2 linked regions of the Homo sapiens genome follow. The protein of the gene in region 2 purifies or fractionates together with the protein of the main gene of each other region. This does not show direct contact. Each region holds a gene or a part of one and is shown on either strand. Other genes may lie near its edges. The genes, in order: EIF2AK3 and EIF2A.

What was found.
Region 1: the proteins of EIF2A (region 2) and EIF2AK3 purify together in Homo sapiens (affinity purification with western blotting; 2 studies listed by BioGRID and IntAct, with this or other methods). This does not show direct contact.

What each region holds. Positions count from the first base shown.
Region 1 is NC_000002.12:88,589,465-88,596,464, forward strand, and holds part of EIF2AK3 (eukaryotic translation initiation factor 2-alpha kinase 3 isoform 1 precursor), read right to left. Parts: intron 6,200-7,000; coding exon 6,005-6,199; intron 4,595-6,004; exon of another isoform or gene 4,449-4,594; intron 3,942-4,448; coding exon 3,808-3,941; intron 1,589-3,807; coding exon 1,354-1,588; intron 1,142-1,353; coding exon 979-1,141; intron 1-978. UniProt on the Homo sapiens protein: Metabolic-stress sensing protein kinase that phosphorylates the alpha subunit of eukaryotic translation initiation factor 2 (EIF2S1/eIF-2-alpha) in response to various stress, such as unfolded protein response (UPR).
Region 2 is NC_000003.12:150,571,991-150,589,724, forward strand, and holds the end of EIF2A (eukaryotic translation initiation factor 2A), read left to right. Parts: coding exon 1-539; intron 540-3,658; coding exon 3,659-3,772; intron 3,773-9,627; coding exon 9,628-9,756; intron 9,757-11,209; coding exon 11,210-11,275; intron 11,276-11,855; coding exon 11,856-11,921; 3' UTR 11,922-14,026; downstream 14,027-17,734. UniProt on the Homo sapiens protein: Functions in the early steps of protein synthesis of a small number of specific mRNAs. Acts by directing the binding of methionyl-tRNAi to 40S ribosomal subunits.

The sequences.
Region 1 (7,000 bases), on a different chromosome or scaffold from region 2:
AAGCACACCAGAGTTTTATTTTTTAGATCAGTTGTACAGATGCACTGATAAAAAAGAAAGAAATCTAATCTTAAAGAGGGGAGGGTCACAAACTAATATGGATGCAAATACAAATACAGAAAATTATAGACTTTGAGGATATATACCTAACTATATATTTTATATGTAATTACATATAAATAATTATATATGTAATACATATATGTAATTACTTATAAATAATTATATATATATAAACAGACAGAGTGTTGTCCTGTCACCCAGGCAGGAGTGCAGTGACATGATTATAGTTTGGGGTAGGCTCTAACTCCTGGGGTCAAGCGATCCTCCCATCTCAGCCTCTGGAGTAGCTAGGATTACAGGTGCGTGCCACCATTCTTGGCTAATGAGTAATTTGAAATCATGTTATATAATGAGAATATTTCTAAGCCTTTCTAATATAGACCTCAGAGAAAAAGAATATGCGACAGTAATTAAAAATTTCAGAATTGGGCTGGGCGTGGTGGCTCATGCCTGTAATCCCAGCACTTTGGGAGGCCGAGGTGGGTGGATCACCTGAGGTCAGGTGCACTATATTCTGGCCAATGTGGTGAAATCCCATCTCTACTAAAAATACAAAAATTAGCTGGGCATGGTGGCAGGTGCCAGTAATCCCAGCTACTTAGGAGGCTGAGGCAGGAGAATCGCTTGAACCCAGGAGGCGGAGGTTGCAGTGAGCAGAGATCATGCCATCACACTCTAGCCTGGGCGACAAGAGTGAAACTCCATCTCCAACAACAACAAAAAAATTTTCAGAATTGGACAAATGGAAAAGTAGCAGGAATGGAAATCGAAGTATAAATCTCAAGGGCAACGTACATCAGAGATGATATTAGGATTTAAAACTACTACAGGCACTCCTGAAGTAGGAAGGAACAATGTAAGAAGAAAATCTAGATGTCAATGTGTACTATCGTTAGATAAGATACATTTACTCACCCAAGTAAACACTGTTTTCTGTGGCTCCTCTGGCAGCTTCTACAATGTCTTCTTCATCTTCTAAAACATCATCATTAGATGTATAACTTGTATCATCAAAAAGACTGATGGGAATGACTTTCCCATCCTTAAGTAACCAGGCAGATGCAATTGGAGTACAAAACTAAACAAAAATGGAAAAAAGGTCTTAAATAATTCAAGCAGTAGTTATATAGTTCCAACCCATAAAATACCATTTAAAATCACAAATTTATAAAAGCACAGAGAACAAGCTGAGAGCCCCAAGTAGTAGTAATTTCGTTCCACCCAATCAATAAGTTTGGTCAGACTGGGAGAGGAAGAACCGTATTTTAAATCCTCAGTGGTGTTAGGTACCTGGTACTCCCATTCCAGATGTCCTCCCTTCTTACTGAATGCCATAACTTTCCAGTCAGCAACCGAAACCTTTATCACTATGTCCATTATGGCAGCTTCCTGTTCTTCCACATCTGAAATAATTTTAGACTCTTCTGTGTTCTCATTGGGCTTAAAGGTGCTTTCAATAAATCCGGCTCTCGTTTCCATGTCTGGAATATACCGAAGTTCAAAGTGGCCAACACTGAAATTCCACCTTAAATTTACAAAGGTGTGTTTTAGAAATTTACATTTAAAGAAAGGGACAAAATAATATAGAACTCTTCTAGATTGAAGAAGCAAATACTAAAATTATGTGATGAGAAAACTAACAACATAACCTTCTGGAAAAGAGTGCTCTACTGATTTATGCCACAAGAGGGCCCACAAGAACTTTGTCCTGACCCTTCAGACACAATGGTTTTGAGGGTTGTGGACTGACTTGATGTGTCCCTTACAACAGCTAAGGGACAGATTTTCTCTCAAAAACTTACAAATGTTTGTACTTCTACATCAGAGTGATTTTCCCCAAACACATCAATGTCACCTTAAAATGAGGTAGCACACAGTCTGCCTTACCTCTTAATTAAAGGCAGGATACATTTCATTAAGTGCAGCAAAATTAATATGCCCTAACAAACCAGTGTAAAAGTCAAGATGAATGCACCAGTCTTAAATTCATACTAAAACATGGCCTCAAAAAGGCAATGTGATCCAGGATACCTCAGCCCCAATCTTGGATCTCCACTGAACAAGATGTGGCAAGTCATTTACCCTTTCCTAAGTAAGTTTCAGCAGTCTTATCCTAAAGTGGCAGTAATAATGTTTCCTCTATAATTAGTAAATAGAAAAATCACTCAACTACTGAGAGTATTGTGTCTTTTCACTTAGATATAAAATGGCATAGTTAAGAATTCTGACATTTATGGAAATAATTATATTTTAAAGAATCATGGATCTTAGAAACCCAGATCCTTCCTATTCTGGTAACTCAAAAATCTGTTAAGTTGGACATCTGCTGCTATGGTGGCTGAGCTCCCAGTAAGCACTCAAACACTTAAAAAAACAAAATCCAGTCAGGATAAAGAAGGTCAAGTTGTCTGTAAATGCAAAGCCCTATTCATAGTCCAAAGTAGAAAGAATAAATGCATTCTTAACTGAGTTTGAGAAAACAGTTTTCAGGAAAGGAAACTGAATTACACTGCATCGGATCAGACAAAACCCGAAAGTCTGGTTCATTTTCAAAAGATAAAGATGGAATCTAAAGTTATTTTTACTACAAAGGCAATTTAAAACTTAAATATTAGGTTTAAAAAAAATCAAGCATTTGATGTAGAATCAGCGTATCTAATCTAGGTATCACATTTTTTAATCACATATTTAAATATAAAAATTACATAAGGGGTTCATTATTTAAAGAAGGAAACAGAAAGGTATTAGGCTAAATAAATGTTTTAATACTTCAAGAAAATTGAATAAGATGATTATTATTTTAAAATTGAGATAATCAAACTATGAAACTACCTACTAGACATAATTAGAGAGTCAAATAAGTTCAAGCTCAAAGAAACACATCAATTTTGTCTTAACATCTTTCTGTATTCAAAGAACTTTGAATGATGAGATTGCTATAAAAAATATCATTAGGCCAGGCACCGTGGCTCATGCCTGTAATCCTAGCACTTTGGGAGTCTGAGGTGGGTGGATCACCTGAGGTTGGGAGTTTGAGACTAGCCTAACCAACGTGGAGAAACCCCATCTCTACTAAAAATACAAAATTAGCCGGGCATGGTGGCGCATGCCTGTCATCCCAGCTACTCAGGAGGCTGAGGCAGGAGAATTGCTTGAACCCGGGAGGCAGCTGTTGTGGTGAGCTAAGATCATGCCATTGCACTCCAGCCTGGGCAACAAGAGTGAAACTCGGTCTCAAAAAAAAAAAAAAAAAATCATTAACCTGAGACTAAACTAATAGTTATCATATGAGAACCCCTGTGGTTATCATATCCCGAAGCATATGGTGAGAAGTTCAGTTCAGAATTTGTTAATAACCATGAAACCATTTTTATTTTAGGACCCACATTGGATCACCTGACGTCGGGAGTTGGACACCAGCCTGGCCAACATGGTGAAACCCCGTCTCTACTAAAAATACAAAAATTAGTTGGGTGTGGTGGCACGTGCCTGTAATCCCCGGTACTCGGGAGGCAGAGGCAGGAGATTCGCTTGAACCCAGGAGGTGGAGGTTGCAGTGAGCCAATATCACGCCACTGTACTCAAGCCTGGGCGACAGAGCAAGACTCCGTATCAAAAAAATATATATATATATGCTTTTAAGGCAACAAAATAGTCAAAATCTCCACAAACAGAAATCTGATAAATTTTGGTATTAGGTGTATTTCTAAATAATACCAACAGCAACATTATCTGAATACACACTTCTCATTGCCACTGCGAGGTCCGACAGCTCTAACAGTTTTTTGGGTACGCTGTAGAAGCAGGATGTCTTCCTCTTGTTCCATTTCGTCACTATCCCATTGGCGACAACCCAGAGCTGAACAGATATACCTCACCTGAAAAGACAAAATTAGATACAAAATTAGTAAAAGGAGACAACTCATAATAGATCAGAGATATTAAAGGAATCTGTAATTTTTAAAAAGTGAAAGGAAACTAAGGAAATGTGTATGAAGTACTCAAGTCATAAGAAGCATCAGTTAGATTACCAACTCCTAAAATGAGTTATTTAGAACAATGACAGTACCAATGAATATTTATTTCAGGGAATGATTTTAAGGATTTACATAATTTTAGCCTTACTTTGGAGATTTCCATAGAATATACAAGAAGAAATGGATAGCTACTTGTGATAGCTTTTCTACAATATCATTAATAAAATTTCAGGTGAGTTAAAAAAAAAATCAACCTTAGAGTTTCTGTATAACAAAAGTGTTTGGTTTTTAAAAATTTGAAACTTTTCTGAGAGCTTTTTGTATTCAAAAGTAACTGCCTCAAATTTTCACTAAAGAAAAAAGGAAGAGTTAATATGATCCAAACTAAAATCCTCACGAAAAGCATACCTTCTACAATACCAGAATTATGTAGCAGCACATCAAATCGGAAAACCAGGTGATCGGGTTCAATCCTGTTGTTTACAGATGAGACTACCGAAGTAAACAGAGATTGAAGTGCTTTGCTCAAAAAACGGCCAGATAGGATGGCATGGCCTCCTCAACACAATGCAGATGCAGGTGGGTGGAGAAGGCAGAAAAGCATCTGCAAGAGCAAGAAAGTGCTATGGGCCTAACACTTAGATAAGGAATTGTTAAAGTTGAAAAATGCAAGAGTAAAAAGACCACGTTTCTATTCTTCCTTATTTTAGTCCAAGTCTGTATATAAACCGTTTACACGTCACAATGGTGTGATCTCAGCTCACTGCAACCTCCACCTCCCAGGTTCAAGTGATTCTCGTACCTCAGCCTCCTGACTAGCTGGGACTACAGGCGTGCGTGCGCCACCATCCCCAGCTAATTTTTTTATTTTTAGCAGAGATGGGGTTTCACCATGTTGGCCAGGCTGGTCTCGAACTCCTGGCCTCAAGTGATCCACCCACCTTGGCCTCCCAAAGTGGTAGGATTACAAGTGTGAGCCACCTTGCCTGGTTGAAAGGATGCTTTTAATTAGCTACTCTTGATAATGGATTTATAAGACCCAATCTTAGAAGCAGATTATATTATGATTATATCCTAAGAGCTAATGTTGGAGAAAGTCTAGATTATTAACAGCATGACTTTGTTGTCAGATAGATCTAAGTTAAATGTGACCCTGGAAGTTTCTGAACCTTTTAAAGTCTCAGTTTCTTCATCTGTAAAATGAGTATAAACTTTCCTCTTGGATCACCTTATTATAGGATCAAACCCTATAAATGAGTAGTATCAATTATTCTTATCATTAGGATTACTATTAATCTTTATAAGGTTCTTCATCTGTCAAAATGTAAAAAAAAAAAAAAAAAAACGAAAGTTACACTTAGGAAGACTGTGAAGATTGCAAAATAATGTATAAAAAAAAGAACCTGAGGCTGGGCATGGTGGCTCCTGCTTATAATCCCAGCACTTTGGGAGGCTGAAGTGGGCAGATCCCTTAAGGCCAGAAGCTGGAGACCAGCCTGGCAATACAGTAAAACCCTGTCTCTACTAAGAATACAAAAATTAGCCAAGCATGGTGGCATGTGCCTGTAATCCTAGCTACTCAGGAGGCTGAGGCACAAGAATCGCTTGAACCCACTTGAACCTGAGGGGGTGTGGAATGGGGTGGGGGTGGGGATTGCCATGAGCTGAGATCAGCCTGGGCAACAGAGTGAGACTCTGTCTCAAAAAAAAAAAAAAAAAAAAAAACACCTGAGACACAGTAGACCATATTTATGAATTCTCTTCCTCCTGCTATTCCTGGCTCTGCCATTTATTCTGTTATTAGTTTCCCCTTCCTACCTCACAGTTCTCTTATTAAAACAAATGACAACCTCAGGGGAAAATTACAATAAAACTCAACTAATAATAAGTGTAGTTTAATAAATTACTTTTTCTACCCTAATTTACTCTGATTTCCCCAAAGTAAATTCAGCATTTTCACTTACCTTTCCACTATATGCACTGAGTCCATATGTAGTCAGAGATTTTCCTCCAACCAAAACAACATCATCTCCAAATTTATAAGAAGATTCAAGAAGTGATTCAACTGTGAAAGGAACTGTTTCCATGCTTTCACGGTCTTGGTCCCACTGGAAGAGGGCTCCATCCAGGGAAGGAATGATCATCTTATTCCCAAATACCTAAAACAGAAGCTAACTTTTTAAAAGGGCCATAACATTAATTATTATTTTTTTCTTATTTCTCCCAGAAAAATAGAAGCATCATACCTTTAAAAGAATAATAGTAATTAAGAGCTGGAGTCTTGATCCTGATGTACTCCAGCCTCCTTCTGAGTAGCACATGAAGCAGTGCAGTCCATCAACCAAAAGTAATTTAAAAGAACTGCCAATCACTCCCAGGCCCTACACATAGTACTCTAGTAAGATTTTTCTCAAACTCAGTTTACCATGGGCCAAAAGGGTCCCATAATGGTAGGTGAGTTACCAAAAGAGAGTTTTATGATCAAGTGAGTTCAAGAAGAGGTTACTATAGGAGCTCTTATAGCAATTAGTATGTTAATGTGTAACATGATTATGTGTAATATGTGTAATATGAATATTTAATGTGTAAATAGATAATATATGCAGTATTTTCTAGGGCTATTTTTATCAAGGCCAATTACTGTCATAGACTCAGCTCCAAGGAACACAGGTTTAGAGATACTGATTCAAGTAGTGTCCCATCCCTTCTTTCATTTGCTTTCTCAAATCTGCAATGAGATAGAAGCCTAGTAAGTAAGCTTACTGGTTTTGTGTTCTCGGTTGCCCTCCCTTCTTTTAACAATGCTTATTAAGGGCTTACCTATGGCCTGGCACATTCTGATGGTTGGGATAGATTAGCGAGCAAAGCAAACAAATCACTGCCTTTGTGAAGGTTAAACTCTGGTGTCACGAGACAAACAACTTAATAAATAAGTAAATTATATGGTATGTTAGGTGATA
Region 2 (17,734 bases):
ATTCTAGTTCTACTGAGTTTTGTGCTGTATATGGTTTTATGCCTGCCAAAGCGACAATTTTCAACTTGAAATGTGATCCTGTATTTGACTTTGGAACTGGTCCTCGTAATGCAGCCTACTATAGCCCTCATGGACATATATTAGTATTAGCTGGATTTGGAAATCTGAGGGGACAAATGGAAGTGTGGGATGTGAAAAACTACAAACTTATTTCTAAACCGGTGGCTTCTGATTCTACATATTTTGCTTGGTGCCCGGATGGTGAGCATATTTTAACAGCTACATGTGCTCCCAGGTTACGGGTTAATAATGGATACAAAATTTGGCATTATACTGGCTCTATCTTGCACAAGTATGATGTGCCATCAAATGCAGAATTATGGCAGGTTTCTTGGCAGCCATTTTTGGATGGAATATTTCCAGCAAAAACAATAACTTACCAAGCAGTTCCAAGTGAAGTACCCAATGAGGAACCTAAAGTTGCAACAGCTTATAGACCCCCAGCTTTAAGAAATAAACCAATCACCAATTCCAAATTGGTAAGTAAAGTTTTACTACTTTTATAGAAAAAAGTTTATTTTGGGCCAGGAGTGGTGGTTCACATCCGTAATCCCAGCACTTCGGGAGGCCGAGGCGGGAGGATCACTTGAGGTCAGGAGTTTGAGACCAGACTGGCTAACATGCTGAAACCCCGTCCCTACTAAAAATAACAAAAATTAGCTGGGCATGGTGGCGCATGCCCGTAGTCCCGGCTACTCGGGAAGCTGAGGCAGGAGACTCACTTGAACCCGGGAGGTGGAGGTTGCAGTGAGCCGAGATCGCACCACTGCACTCCAGCCTGAGCAACAGAGTGAGACTCCGTCTCAAAAAAAAAAAAAAAAACAACCTTTCTCTTGGACTAAACAAAACGTATGACTGGTCTGAAACTTCTTAATTTCCATCGAAATGTTCTATTTAACCAGTATTGTTTTATTTATGTAAAATTATATAAAGACATAACATGATATTTATTTGTATTTATCATATTTATTTAGATTTAAAAAGAAAGTATATAGTAGACTTCAGATTTTTCCTATTTCTGTATTGGAATTTTCCTTACCTCAGATAAAAACAAAAGTAACTCCAACCCATCCTGCTTTCTGAATCTGTGCATGATGGCACAATTCTTTGATCCATAAAAGTAGTAGGTTTATTTTGGTGAGGGGGAGAAATTGATACAGAAAATAATACTTTGAAAATGGTGATGAAATTAGGTAAGAACTTAAAATCAGGATTTTTTTGAGACAGAGTCTCACTCTGTCATCGAGGCTGGAGTGCAGTGGCGCGATCTCTGCTCACTGCAACCTCCACCTCCCGGGTTCAAGCAATTCTCCTGCCTCAGCCTTTTGAGTAGCTGGGATTACAGTGCCTGCCACCACGTCCAGCTAATTTTTTTATTTTTAGTAGAGATGGGGTTTTGCCCTGTTGGCCAGGCTGGTCTGGAACTCCCGACCTTAGGTGATCCACCCGCCTTGGCCTCCCAAAGTGCTGGAATTACAGGCATGAGCCACTGTACCCGGCCAGGATTTTTTTGTTAACATTTAAGATTTCTACTAAATTGTTGCTTTTTTATGTGGCGTGATGATTGTGTGGTCCTGTCAAATCATTTTAGTTGAAGTAGCTATATGCCCAGTAATTAGAAATGTTTACGTGTATCTAATTCCAGAAATGAGCTAAATTACAAAGAAAATACTGTCAAGAAATTACTAGAAACAAAGACAGTGTAGTAGATAACTTCACAAAGGAGGAGAGTTACACAGCAGTAGGGGAAAAAAGGTGTTGGGGTTCGTCCCTCACAGAAAAAAGTTTTTTATAAGTAAAAATTTATATATAAATTATACTTAAAGAATATTTATTAGCTTTCCAAAAAAACCTTCACCTTTTAAAATGCGTTCGTTGGTCCGGTGTGGGGGTTTCGATCTGTAATCTCAGCACTTTGGGAGACCGAGGCGGGTGGATCGCCTGAGCTCAGGAGTTTGAGACCAGCCAGGGCAACATGGTGAGACCCCATCACTACTAAAAATGCAAAACAAATAGTTGGGCATGGTGGTGTCTGCCTGTGATCCCAGCAACTCGGGAGTGTTGAGGTGGGAAATTCACTTGAGCCCAGAAGGAGGAGGTTGCAGTGAGCTGAGAAATTAAAATGTGTTCATCAAAAACAGTCCCATAATAATTGATATAACTGAATAAACAAAGTTTATTAATGAGAATGAAATTATGCGTAATGAGCACATAGTACCAAAACCAGAAAAAACTCATGATTTATAGTAGTTGTGTGGATTTTTTTCGTCTCAAGTGAAAGGCTCTCAGTGGCTACATGATGCTCATAAGCGTGGAAGAGACTTGTAACTTATCTTTTCTTCTTGTATCATTTTTCATCAAAGTTCTGAGCAGAAACTTTTCGGCCAAAGTAAACTACTACAGAAGAGCCCACTATTGAAAGAATTTTCATATTATGTATAAAACAAATGTTCAGCAAATATTGTATAACTTAAGTAGCATTTTATGCAACATGGATAAAAATGAAATGAAAGAGCCTTGCACTCCAAATTTGTCTGCTGTTCTACAAATGTGGGTTCTCATAATATTCAGTTTGTTTCAAGTAGAATATGAACATACCCAGAACTTTGATGACCTGAAATAGTTAATGCATTTGCTAAGATAAGGTCACTTTATGGTTTCTTATTTATTACTCTGCATCTTAAGTGTTTGAGCTCTGCTCATTTCCATATAGAACTTATAAGTAAAATGCGGATCTGAGACCTAGTACTCAAGAAACTTCATGGAGAGCTGGTACTTTTGATGTGCTGAGTTATGGTACAGTCTAAGAGACAGTTAACATTAAAATAATAGCAATATAGATAGAAATCAGTAAGTACCTGAATCTGATAGAGAGTTGTAGTGCCATCACTTATACTGTATGTTGTCTAAAACTGTTCTGGAGATACATTGAATCTATAATTCACCATCTTTTCTATTGTGGAATATAGTTGTTACATGGTTACATGAATATCTGATGTTGGAAATGATTGTCTTCATTGTGTAATCTGACAAGCCATGTAATTTTTTTTTGGTCTCTTCATATGTCAATCCCAGATTTGTAATTATCTAGTTAATTACTCCTTTCTATTTCATTTATTTTCTTATAATCTATTCTTGTTTTTTCATTTGCTTTTATTTTTAATCTTCTAATTTCTGATTTTACAAGTAAAGATCTAGCAAGTAATTCTTTGTGTGAAGAAAACAAGCGAGGCAACTGGGTTTCTGTTGACAATAGTTAGAACCAAAAAGGCCTCAGAAGAAGCTGTTGTTGGTATCTAGTTTTCATAAGAATCATGTGTCTGTAGTAGTGCTAAGAAAAATTCTGTTTGAACAAAACTAAAGTGAATTTTGCCAGCTCTGATATGATTGAAAGATATAGGAACTAATAGGAAGACCCTAATTAAATCCATCCTGACAGTTGGAGTGTGCCACTACCAATGAGTTTCAAAATAATCTTTGCTAATGATCTTAAATTTGATAAAATAAGTTTATCCTATATTAGCAGAAGTGTATAATTTGTTGTTGTAGGTGTTTACAACATGGACTCCATTTCAAAATTATTTTACATTTTCCATAGCATGAAGAGGAACCACCTCAGAATATGAAACCACAATCAGGAAACGATAAGCCATTATCAAAAACAGCTCTTAAAAATCAAAGGAAGCATGAAGCTAAGAAAGCTGCAAAGCAGGTATTTGGGGCACTAATCTCATAACAAAACAAATAGTCAGTTATGGCCGGGCGCAGTGGCTCACGCCCGTAATCCCAGCACTTTGGGAGGCTGAGGCGAGTGGATCACTTGAGGTTAGAAGTTCAAGACCAGACTGGCCAACGTGGTGAAACCCTGTCTCTACTAAAAATTCAAAAATTAGTTGGCCATGGCTTATAATCTCAGCTACTCAGGAGGCTGAGGCAGGAGAATTACTTGAACCTGGGAGGTGGAGGTTGCAGTGAGCCATGATCGCATCACTGCACTCTAGCCTTCCAGCCTGTGCGACAGAGAGAGACTCCATCTCCAAAAAAAAAGGCAGTTAAGTTAGCTTTAAGCCTTAAAGTTTAAAGAATTGTGGTCCTAAATACTTGACTGTGACCAGGTGTGGTGGCTCATGCCTGTAACCCAGCACTTTGGGAGGCCAACGTGGGAGAATTGCTTGAGCCCAGTTCGAGACCAGCCTGGGCAACATAGTGAGACCCCCATCTCTATGAAAAATTTTTTGCTGGGCACAATGGCGTGTACCCCGTAGTCCCAGCTGCTTGGGAAGCTGAGATGGTAGGATCACTTGAGCTTGGGAGGTTGAGGCTGCAGTGAGCTGTGATTGTACCACTTCAGCCTGAGTAACAGAGCAAGACCATGACTCGAAAAAAAAAGAAAAAAAGCACAAAAAACCTTGGCTCTTACGTTATAAAATGTAGTTGGAGTTAGACTTAAATAGGCAGAATATCTTTCTTTTGTCTTTGCCTATGAATTTCTAAGTAATCCTGTCTATATGATGGGTGACAAAAGAAACTGGACTTGACATCATAACCTGAGACACTAATGGTATTATGTAAGCATGTTACTTGCTGTAGACCCTTTTGGTGGCACTTGTGTGAAGTGGTGTAGTTTGCTTTCCTTGAAGCATGTATTTACTAAGAGAAGCTGGAAATTACATGACTAGAAAGCCATTTGGGCACTCAGTATTATAGTACTATATGAAATTATTTAACTGGGAATCGAAATACCAGAAGTACCCAAATAATGGGATATTTCCAAAATAGTTTCTTACTTGATTACGTAGTTGAAAAGCCACACCAGTGTAAATAATTGACAAATTGTGATATTGTATAGCTCATGGTGATAATGTGATTGGCTGGGCTGGGGATGTCTGGTTAGTGAAGTTATGGTGATCACATTTTTGCAATTCAGGTAGAGTACATGTCTCAATCCATTCAGGCTGCTACCTTATACTAGGTAATTCATAAACAAATTTATTGCTCACAGTTCTAGAAGCTGGGGCGCTGGCAGATTTGGTATCTGGTGAGAACCCGTTCATCATAGATGGCACCTTCTTTCTGTGTGTCCTCCCATGGTGGAAGGGGCAGTGGAGCTCTCTTTGGTCTCTTTTATAAAGCTACTAATCTCATTCTTGAGTGTGGAATCCTCATGACTTAATCATTTTCCAAATGCCCCACCTTTTAATACTATTACATTGGGTATTAGGTCCCAAACTATGAATTTGAGGGAAACACCAATATGTCAGACTGTAGCAGTGGGGTAGGGTTTTTGGATGTTTTGTTTTTGTTTCTTTTGAGACACTCTGTCTCACTCTGTTATCTAGGCTGGAGTGCAGAGGCATGATCACGGCTCACTGCAACCCCAGACCCTGAGCTCAACTAATCCTGCCTCAGCTTCCCAAGTAACTAGGACTGTACATGTACACCACCATTCCCAACTAATTTTTTTATTTTTGTAAAGATAGGTTATCGCTATGTTTTTCAAGCAGGAAATGGGAGTAGGTTTTTTTGGTTTGGTTTTGGCTTGGTTTTTTTTTTTGAGACCGAGTTTTGCCATGTTGCCCAGGCTAGTCGCAAACTCCTGAGCTCAAGCAGTCTTTCCACCTCAGCCTCCCAAAGTGCTTGGATTACAGGCGTGAGCCACTGTGCCCATCCTAGAAAGGGCAGATTTTTAACAGCTGGTTGCTATATCAGTATAGTCTTGCTGATAATTCTTGAATTTTGACAGGTCTAGGCTGGTTATGTGTTTTGGGAGGCAGTTACTATTTTAAGGTATAGAATTGTATTATGCAACCATATTCTGCTAAAATCTGGACTTTTAGAAAAACCATTCTGTTCATTTGTAGTTAATATGTTTCATCCCCAGAAGTATCTTAATTGGTCAGCTTTAGGTTATTCCAAGTAAAAATGATCTATTCCATGCATTTGATATTAGATTTGTATAAAAGCAAGTCTTGTCCCTTCATCAGTACAAGTAGGGACCTCTACTGGCCCTGGATATTACAACTCATTAGTAGTATCCTTAACAACTTGATAACTAAGATGCCCTTTGAGTTTTAGGGCCTCTCTGAAACGCACTCAACTTAGAATTCTATTTTTATAAGCAAAGTTTCTTCCACTTTATCAAAAGATATTTTTAATATGACCATTGGTGATACTGGACTAAGATTCCTTTATACTTATTATATAAATAATTACTTACATAATTACATATGATTATAATTATTAATAATTATAACCATTAATTAATATACTAAATTATAATTGTATTAATTATATAAATAATATACAAATTCTATTAGTTTATACATTTTATAATATAAATTATGTGATAATTTCACATTTAATTAATATAATGAAATTATTATTATAAATAATAGTTATTTGTAACTCTGTTATAAATGTGTAACTCTTTATAGCTCATGGTAATAGTGTGATCAGCTGGGCTGATCAGTTATAAATTTACAACTCTCAGTTATATGTTTATACCTGTCAGTTTTTTTTAAAAGAGCCAATACAGTCATCAAGCACCTACACACGTTTTTTACTAAAGATGATACCAAAGGTGATACCAGTAATCCCTCATTGTGGAATTGCTTTTTGAGTTGTTTTTCCAGTAATAGCAAAGGTTTTCAACTTGCAAGATAAACTATTCAGTATGTATTTTGGGGACGACTGGCTGAAGTTAGTAAAAGTTGTGGCTGTGTGATGGAACAAAGCTAAATGGCCCTTGACAGAATCTCACCTTATCCAGACCTTCTTAGTCCTGACTCTGAAGTAAATAGTCAAAGATAGAGCAGTCAGATATATGTAATCTAACTAGTATTTTTGTAAACTGGTGATAATTTTATAAGTTTGTTGACTTTACCAAAAAAGAGTTGAAACATAAGAATTTAATCTTACCATATATACGTCCTTTCTAGAGAATGGCTAGAATTTAAGTATAATAATGCAGACATTTCAACTTGTTCTTGGTTAGTTTGTGGGGAAAAATAAATTTTATATATCACTTAATTTTAATGGTTTTTCACATGATAAGATTAACCTTTCTTCCTAGAGAGCTATATTCTTAGCTCATTACAAACAACTAAAATTTTATATTTTTAAAATCTGATATCAAAAGTGAATTTTGATAGGCAGAATATCCCCTCTTCTTTTATTTACTCTTCTACTTTAATTTTATATTGTGAAAAATATAAAACTGCCTATTACCAGAACTTACAGGCTCCTTAAGAGGAGAAACTTAATATTTTCTTTCGAATTCTCAAAGTGCCCAGTAATTTGTTTTCATGTAGAAGGTAAATAATTGTTTATTAAATAGTACCAAAAAGTGAAACCAACATGACTTTAAAAAGAAAAATTGGCTGGATGCAGTGGCTCACACCTGTAATCCCAGCACTTTGGGAGGCCGAGGTGGGTGGATCACCTGAGGTCTGGAGTTCGAGATCAGCCTGTCTAACATGGTGAAACCCCATCTCTACTAAAAATACAAAATTAGCTGGGTGTGGTAGCAGGTGCCTGTAACTGTAATCCCATCTACTTGGGAGGCTGAGGCAGGAAAATCGCTTGAACCCGGGAGGTGGAGGTTGCAATGAGCTGGAATCGTGCCACTGCACTCCAGCCTAGACTCTGTCTCCAAAAAAAAAAAAAAAGAGAAAAATTGACTTCAATTCTGTATTTTCTAAAAACTCTTAGGCAGACTTTTAGAGTTGAATATCTAGAAGTGATACCCTATTCTATGTTCCCTGAGGATCTGAGGATGCTTTAAAAGTTCAGAGTATCCTACCCAGAACTCTGAGTAAAAGGTTATGGAGACCTGGAGCATTATATATATATTCCACTGGAAATTCTATAAGAAGTAGAAACCCTACGTTGGAGCCAATAAATACTTACATAATTTTTTCCCCTCTTACCAAAATATATATCTTGTCATAATTATAAAGGAAGAGTCATTCCTTTATTTTTTATTTATTTAGCCTGTGCAACGAAGCAAGTATTATGCTAGAGGCTCAGTTCTAATGGGGAATGGTAGAATATGGTGTTACCGTAGGGAAAAATACTGGGCATTATGAGAGCCTGGGAAAGGTGCGACTATCCAGTCTTAAGGTGGGGAGATTTTCCAGAAGACTTAAAGGATAAGTAGGGTTCAGCCAGGTGACTTGTGGGGGAAGGTGTTCTAGGCACAAGGAACAATATATAGTAGTCTCCCTTTATCCTGGAGGGGCAGAGCTATGCCTGAAACCACAGATAGTACCGAACCCTATAGAGACTGTGATACACAGTAAGAGATTAACAGTAACTCATAAGAAAATAGAGCAATTATAATAATATACTGTAATAAAAGATATGTGAATATGGTCTCTCAAAATATCTAATGGTGTTGTATTCACCCTTTTTGCGACAATGTGAGATGGTACAATGCTTGTGTGGTAAGTTGAATGACCACGGCTATAACTTGCAGTTCAAGGCGCAACTGCAAAACTAGCACTAATCTCTTTTTTCTTCTTCCCAAGTTCATGGATAGGTTTAATCTTACTGTAAATCATAGCAAATCAGCATACAATATTTTTTATTCCTTATTAAGAACTTTCACCTTTTCACTTAAAGGGAGCACTTTACGGCTTCTCTTTGGCATATCCGAATTGCCAGCATCACTACTCTGCACTTTGGGACCATTATTAAGTAAAATAAGGGTTACTTAAACACAACTACTGTTGATACTGTGACAGTCGATCTGATAACCAACACAGCTACTAGTGAAAAATAGGTGGGGAGCGAATACACTGTGGATACACTGGATAAAAGAATGATTCTCGTTCTAGGCAGGATGCTGAGAGATTTCATCACACAGCTTAAAACTTATGAATTGTTTATTTCTGGGATTTTCCATGTAATATTTTTGGGCTGCAGTTGACGCTTGGTTACTGAAACCATGGTTAAGGGAGACTGCTGTACACAAAGGCCAGGGGCAAGAGTATACAGCACCTTAGCGGAAATAAAAGTGATTCAGAATCAGTGAGGAGGGACAAGAAAAGTTATCAGAGGTCTGATCATATTGGAAGCATTATGGCATCCCTTTAAGGGGAAAAAAGTTTTGTGGTACTTTGTTGCAGAGCTGAATTGATCTGATTATAAATTAATATCTGTAGGATTCTTATTCTTGTAGCATAATCCATTACAGGTACTTGATCATACATATTCTTTATAGTTTTGGAGAGAGCCTTGTAAGAGTGAAACTTTAAACACCTTAAATAGAAAAGCCCTCTCATATGTTCAAACCATCTATCTACTGGCACATCTCAGAATATGCAAAAGTTTGGAATGCTTGTTGGCTGGTACAGAAACTTCCTGGTTTACTCTGATAAGGTCATTTTATTTCTAACATGGGAGTATGTAGCATACTTCATGAGACCTTTAATTCAGATTCTTTATATAAAATGTAGATAAAATCACATATTTAGTTTCTGTATTTCATATGCCAAAGCTATGTTGATTTAAATACTGTAATGTTTTTGGCTTTTAAAATTGAATTTAAAAAAATATTTCCTGCAGGAAGCAAGAAGTGACAAGAGTCCAGATTTGGCACCTACTCCTGCCCCACAGAGCACACCACGAAACACTGTCTCTCAGTCAATTTCTGGGGACCCTGAGATAGACAAAAAAATCAAGAACCTAAAGAAGGTGAGAGACTTAAAAACAGATGTGCATATTGAAAGGTATACATGAAAATTATATAAGTAAGAGAGTACTTAGATGCCTAAAGACAGGTATCTAAGAAGTTGGTATCAGCAGTTCTCATTGTTGTTTTCTCACTATGAAGCACTGTTCACTTAGGAATGGTATTGATTTTAGTTCTATTCATAAATGTCTGAAGACTCTTAGTACTTTGATTTTTGGAGTAATAAAATTCAGTGTGCATCAGCATAGAAATATACTGAACACTTTTTTTTTTTGAGACGGAGTCTTGCCCTGTTGCCCAGGCCGGAGTACAGTGCCACAACCTTGGCTCACTGCAACCTCCGCCTCCCAGGTTCAAGCGATTCTCCTGCCTCAGCCTCCCGAGTAGCTGGGACTACAGGTGTGCGCCACCACGCCTGGCTAATTTTTATATTTTTAGTAGAGACAGGGTTTCACCATGTTGGCCAGGCTGGTCTCAAACTCCTGCCCTCAGGTAATCCACCCGCCTCGACCTCCCAAAATGCTGGGATTTGTGAGCCTCCTCGCCTGGCCACTGAACACTTTTTAATTTAATTTAATTTTTTTTTTTGAGACAGAGTCTTGCTCTGTCGACCAGGTTGGAATGCAGTGGCGCGATCTCGGCTCACTGCAAGCTCCGCCTCCCGGGTTCAGGCCATTCTCCTGCCTCAGCCTCCCGAGTAGCTGGGACTACAGGCGCCTGCCACCACACCTGGCTAATTTTTTGTATTTTTAGTAGAGACGGGGTTTCACCGTGTTAGCCAGGATGGTTTCAATCTCCTGACCTCATGATCTGCCTGTCTCAGCCTCCCAAAGTGCTGGGATTACAGGTGTGAGCCACTGCACCTGGTCACTCAATACTTTTATACTCAGTATTTCATTAGATACCTTGTGATAATTAGGGGCAGATATTTATCCTAGTTTTGAAGATGAAGAGACAGAGACAAAAAAGAAGTGTATTGATTTGTGATATTGCAGCCAGTGTGCTGGGGTGGCCCTGGGGATAAAAAAAGGTCTCTAGAGCCCTTCACAGCTGCATTATGAGGTTTCTCTTTCATTCACTTTTTATCGGGCAGGACTTTGGACCAACAATCTTTCAGAATGCTCTCATTGAGATTTCTCTCAAAGCCAGAAACATCACCCAGGTCCAATGGGGCATTGAAATGTGCCATTACTGATACATTTATATATACACATGCATACACGATAACATTAATTAAAAGCCTGAGAATAATATTTTGCCAAATCTCATGTTTTTAACATTTACAATTTTGCATTTAACTTTAAAAAACAATTTATCCTAGCATTTTAACAGACCATTGTTGATACAAATCTAAGATAATTAATCTCCTTACTTGAGTTTCACATTCTTAATAAGGAAATTTGCATTTGAAGTGACTTTTCTTCCATGCTCTTGACTCATATTTGATGTTTGCAGAAACTGAAAGCAATCGAACAACTGAAAGAACAAGCAGCAACTGGAAAACAGCTAGAAAAAAATCAGGTACTTTCTGCATTTTTCATTTAGGCTTGTGGTGACCACCAGCCTTCCCCCTTTTATTATAAACAAGTATTTAGTCAGGTAAAAGAGCACATGGAGTTTAAAAACTTATTTTGAAAACCATATGCCATATTCTTTTTAATGTTTTTACTTTTAAATAGCTTTACTCTTAAATAGAAGAGATATGGTATTGATCATGTGAATGAAAAAGTCAATATTCCTAAGAGGCATACTATGTTATTACTGCTGAAAATAATAGCAATTTGTTATATTAGACAAATATAAGATTCTCTCAAGTTGTACTGCCCTGTTTGCCTTTTCCCTCCTCCTGTCAACATGTTTAAGCCCGAATATAGAATTGAAAATTTTTGGGGCCCAAAGGGATGCAGTAAGACAGTGTCTGTTCTTTTCACCCTCGATTCATACCAGATAACAAATTAGAATTTGTTTCTAACCTGTATTTTAAAATCTGTGTTTACTAGTGAACATAATAAATTGTCAGAAATACCATTTTTTCTGTATTATTTTGGTTACATATCCAGTAATTATTTCATAATAACTTCATTGTTTCAAACTTTTCTAGTTGGAGAAAATTCAGAAAGAAACAGCCCTTCTCCAGGAGCTGGAAGATTTGGAATTGGGTATTTAAAGATTCACGGAAAGCAAGTTGATGACCAGAAATCAGTGCAAACACATCTTCTGTTAAACCCATTGGTATACACAGAATATTCCTGTGCCCACACTTAATGTCAATCTATAATTTTAACCATTTATCCAAGATTCTACTAAGTGTAAAATTATTTAATAATGTCTATTAAATTGATATTTATATCTTGCATCCTATATCATGTCAATATGTGATATAGAAAAGAGATACGTGAATTTTTTAGCTAAGCTTGACAGATTGAAAGACAAGTGTCATTTTTTTTTGTAGAGGGTGATATATACCATGTAAATGAACAAAGACATTTTAAATTTAATCACTGTTTTTATTATAAGTTCCTTAGTTCAGATATCCTTTATTAATTTATAAGATGTGTAAAACTACTTAATTCTCACAAGACTCTATGAAGTAATTCTTTTAATCTCTATTTTATAAATGAAAAAACTAAGGCCATAAATTTAAGAAATTTGTCAGTGTCTCAAAGCTAGGAAATGGCCATCTAATCCCAGAGCCTATGCTTTAGGTCACTATGATATATACTACTCCTGTATCCTCAAGTAATGTATCATTTAGTAACACTAAGCACCCTGCTTAGTTTTCATGGATACTGCCAAATTGCCCTATCTCAAGCTTTATACTTGCACCATTTAAAGTTTTCCACACTGTTGGCAATATCAGAAGTGATAAGGCTTTGAAATGTTCGCCACTTTGATAAAGAGGAAATGATTGTTTGTTACTGTTATATACATGTATTTTTATCAGAGATGGGTTATGTACTTTTCCACGTTTGATAGTTGGTTGTATTTCTTTAGTGAATTGATTTTTCTTTTCCTTTGCCCATTTTTCTGTTTGGATGTTTGACTTTCTTCTTAATTTGTAAGAGTATCCTATGTAGTAACAAAATCCTTTTTTAAAAATTTTTAAAGAAAAAGTATACACACAGGACTTTTTTTTTTCTAATTCAAAAAATACAAAGGCATGCAATGAAAATTAAGTCTGTTCCACTACCACATTTTCCAGTTTTTTGTGTATCTTTCTAATGATAGATACCATATGAGTATTCAAATATACATACACATACACTTAAAAAAAAAAGATGGCATATACTAACTGTTCTGTTTGGGGCTTTTTGGTGGTGGTGTTTGTTTGACAGGGTCTCACTCTGCCTCCCAGGTTGGAGTGCACCTTGAACTCCTGGACTCAAGTGATCCTTCACCTCCTCCTTCCAAGTATCTGACACTACAGGCTTGCATCACTATGCCCAGCTTATACTCACCATAGTGGTTCTGTACTCCCTTAAAATATTCTGGAGGCCAGGCATGCTGGCTCACACCTGTAATCCCAGCACCTTGGGAGGCCAAGGTGGGTGGATCACCTGAGGTCAGGAGTTCAAGACCAGCCTGATCAACATGGTGAAACCCCATCTCTACTAAAAATACAAAAGTATCCAGGCGTGGTAGCACATACCTGTAATCCCAGCTACTTGGGAGGCTGAGGTAGGAAAATTGTTTGAACCCGGCAGACAGAGGTTGCAGTGAGCCGACATCGTGCCATTGCACTCCAAGCCTGGGCAACAAGAGTGAAACCGTCTCACACACACACAAAAAAAAATATTTTGGAGCTCCTTCTATATGAGTCTCTCTCTCTTATCTCTCTCAGGATGTGTGTATGTGTTTGTTTCTCTGGAAAACCCTGACTAATACAGATTAGCTATGTATTAGGTAATACATAATGCCTAATACATAACTAATATATGGACAGGAAGTTAATAGACTGACTGTGCCACCTTAAAACTCGTATGTTGAAGCCCTAACCTCCAACGTGGTGGTATTGGGAGATGGGCCTTTTGGAAGGTAAGTGTGTTTGAATGAGGTGAAGAGGTTGGGGACTTCGTGATGGGATTATTGTCCTTACAAGAAAAGACACCAGAGAGCTTGTTCTGTCTCTTTGGGCCATGTGAAGACATGGTGAGAAAGCAGCCAGCTGTAAGCCAGAGAGTCCTCACCAGAACCTAACCATGCTGGTGATATCCTCATCTCAGACTTCTAACCTCCAGAACTGTGAGAAAATAAACTTCTTTGTTTAAACCACCTAGTCTGGTATTTTGTTACGGCAGCCTGAGCAGACCAATATAGATTGTATAAATTTCAGTTTGTTTAAAAGGACAGGCCGGGTGTGGTGGCTCACGCCTATAATCCCAGCACTTTGGGAGGCAGAGGCGGGCGGATCACAAGGTCAGGAGATCGAGACCATCCTGGCTAACACAGTGAAACCCCGTCTCTACTAAAAATACAAAAAATTAGCCGGGCGTGGTGGCGGGTGCCTGTAGTCCCAGCTACTCGGGAGGCTGAGGCAGGAGAATGGCCTGAACCCGGGAGGCGGAGCTTGCAGTGAGCCGAGATCGTGCCACTGCACTCCAGCCTGGGCAACAGAGCGAGACTCCGTCTCAAGAAAAAAAAAAAAAAAAAAAAAAAGTAAAGGACAACTAATGAATCAAGGAAGACTTTATGGGAAAAAGTAAGATTTAACATGCTCTAAATAGAAAAATGGTTTGCTTTTTTTTTTTAAGGTTTAACGTGTTTATCATGGTTGGCAGCTAAGTAGAGGAAGAGCCAAGTCCAGAATCTAACATTTGGACTTCCCCTCATTTAAACAGTGGCGTTTTGCCACGTTGCCCAGACTGGTCTCAAACTCCTCAGCTCAAACAATCTGCCCACCTCGTCCTCCCAAGATGCTGGGATTACAGTCATGAGCCACTGCAGCCAGCCTACATTTTTAAATGGTTGGAAAATCAAAAGATTATTTGATGACATGTGAAAATGGTATAAAACTGTGAAATCTATTGTCCATAAGTAAAGTTTTCTTTGAACACATCCATGCTCACTCGTTAACTTATTTTCCATGGCTGCTTTCATGCTGCAACTGCAGAGTTGAGTATTTCCAACAGGTCATGTTTTTGCAATGCCTAAAACATATACTCTCTGGCATTTTACAGAAAAATATTGCTAATTCCTTTGTATTCTGTAGAAGAATACAAAATAACATGGAAATAACCACATAATTATGTTGCTTCTTGTATTCTCCACTATATAAACTCCTAGAAGTGGAATTCTTGAGTCATGTCACATTAGAAAATTTAGGCCAGGCACTAATTTAGGCTCATGCCTGTAATCCCAGCACTTTATAAGACTGAGGCTGGAGGATCACTTGAGCCCAGAAGATTGAGGCTGCAGAGAGCCATGATCATGCCACTACACTCCAGCCTGGGTGACAGAGAAAGACCCTGCCTCCAAAACAACAACAAAATGTAAATACTTTTTGTTGTTACTATTATCATCATCATCTTTATTTTACTTGCTGATTTTCTCCTTCACTATGTTTGGGGTTTTTTTACTCAATTTATTTTCACATTTGGTACTGTTATTACTCTGAGACTGTTGTTTTTATTTAGTGGAAGCATAATCAAGTTAAGTGAATCAGATGTGACTCCGCAATTGGCATTTTAACATCTAAATTTGGGACAGAGTCTTGCTCTGTTACCCAGGCTGGAGTGCAGTGGCTCGATCTCAGCTCACTGCAACCTCTGCCTCCTGGGCTCAAGCAATTCTCGCGCCTCAGCCTCCGAGTAGCTGAGATTACGGGCATGCACCACCACGCCTGGCTAATTTTTGTATTTTTAGTAGTAGAGACGGGATTTCACCATGTTGGCCAGGCTGGTCTCCAACTTCTGGCCTCAAGTGATCCGCCTGCCTCGGCCTCCCAAGCTTTGGGATTACAGGCATGAGCCACTGCTCCTGGCCTTAAACTTTGTTTAAAAAAAGAAATAAAGCAATGGGCCAGATTGGTTTTGACACAGATTGAACAATTTAAACATTTATTGCTCAAAAGATTAATGAAGATCATGGGCCACTAATCTGCTTCAGACAAACTGTTAAACCAGTTTTTAAAAAACTAAATTGAACATTTTCTGAATTTATACCCCTTGCCAAGTAAAAAATAATACACATACATTCCAAAATAAATTTAATATCAGAAATTCTGTGATGTTTATGTTGCAATCCAAAAAGGTGAAAAGGTAAGATGTTGAGTTTTCCAAAAGTAAATTATAAGGTGAGCATTTTATCCTTGGCTTTTCAGCTCTCTATGGAAAGATACAATCCATTAATAGTCATAGACCTGCTGACTGTCTGTAACCCCTGCGTCAGATCAGTGGTAAGTCATAGGCCCAGCCATAACATTACACCTCTTCAGGGACAGCTTAGCCCTGTAGAGTCGATGAGGTTAAGTGGCAGGCGTGGACACGGCGGCAGTTGTGAAGAGCTGCTTACACCAAAGCCTTGCCCGGAATGCAGGGCTGATTGCCTGCTCACAGTTGGTCTTGTGACTGACAAGTGTCCTGTTAGTGTCGTTGTAGGATGACAGGGGCCTCACAATTTCCAAAAAAAATTATTCTGTAGGGGAGGAGCATTTTTCTACTCTTCAGGACTTTGAGGAGGTCTACATCATCTGAGGCTCAGTACTGTCTTTGGAAAGCAGTTTGCAGGACTGCAACCAGAGGAAATGCTTCAACCATTTGTTCTCTGCACCTGGGGGAAGAAAGTCTTTGCCCTGAAGTGTGATAGCCAGTGATCTAATCAGCTACAGTTATGTGCCACATAAAGACGTTTTTGTCACTGACAAACTGCAAATATGATAGTGGTCCCATAAGCTTATAATGGAGCCGAAAAATTCCTATCTCCCAGTGGCATGATAGCCTTGTAATGCCCTAGCACAACATATTACTCACTTGTTTGTAGTGATGCTGTTTGTAAACAAACCTGTGCTGCCAGTCCTATAAAAGTCTAGCACTTACAATTATGTACAGTACATAATACTGGATAATTATAAATGACTGTTCCTGGTTTATGTATTTACTATACTATACTTGTTATTTTAGAGTGTACCCCTACTTTAGAAAGTTAACTGTAAAACAGCCTCAGGCATGCCCTTCAGGAGGAGTTCCAGAAGGCACTGTTACTGTAGGATATGACAGCTCCATGTGTGTTATTGCCCCTGAACACCTTCCAGTGAGACAAGATGTGGAAGTGAAGACAGTGATATTGATGATCCTGATCAATAGCCCCTACATGGCTGGGGCTAATGTATGGGTTTGTGTCTTTAAAAGTTAAAAAAAAAAAAATTAGAGGAAAGCTTTTAGAGCAAGGATATAAAGAAAAAATATTTTCGTACAGCTGTATAATGTGTGTGAATGTGTTTTTTGGTTTTTGTTTTGAAACAGGGTCTCATTCTGTCACCCAGACTGGAGGGCAGTGGCACAATCTTGGCTCACTGCAACCTCTGCCTCCCAAGCTCAAGGGATCCTCCCAACTCAGGCTCCCAAGTACCTGGGACTACAGGCATGCACCACCGCACTCAGCTAATTTTTTTACTTTTTGTAGAGACGAGGTCTCACTATGTTGCTCAGGCTGGTCTTGAACTCCTGGGCTCAAGGGATCATCCCACCTCAGCCCCCCAAAATGTTGGGATTATAGGCTTGTTCTGGCCAACGTATGTTTTAAGCTAAGTGATATTGTGAGTCAAAAAGTTATATAAAATTAAAAGTTTATAAATTTAAAAAGTTACAGTAAGCTAAGGTTAATTGATTATTAAAACAAGAAAAATATTTTTAGCATAGCCTAAGTGTACAGTGTTTATAAAGTCCATAGTAGTGTACACTAATGCCCCTGGCCTTCATGTTCACTGACCACTCACTCACTGACTTGCCCAGAGCAACTTCCAGTCCCACAAACTCCATTCAA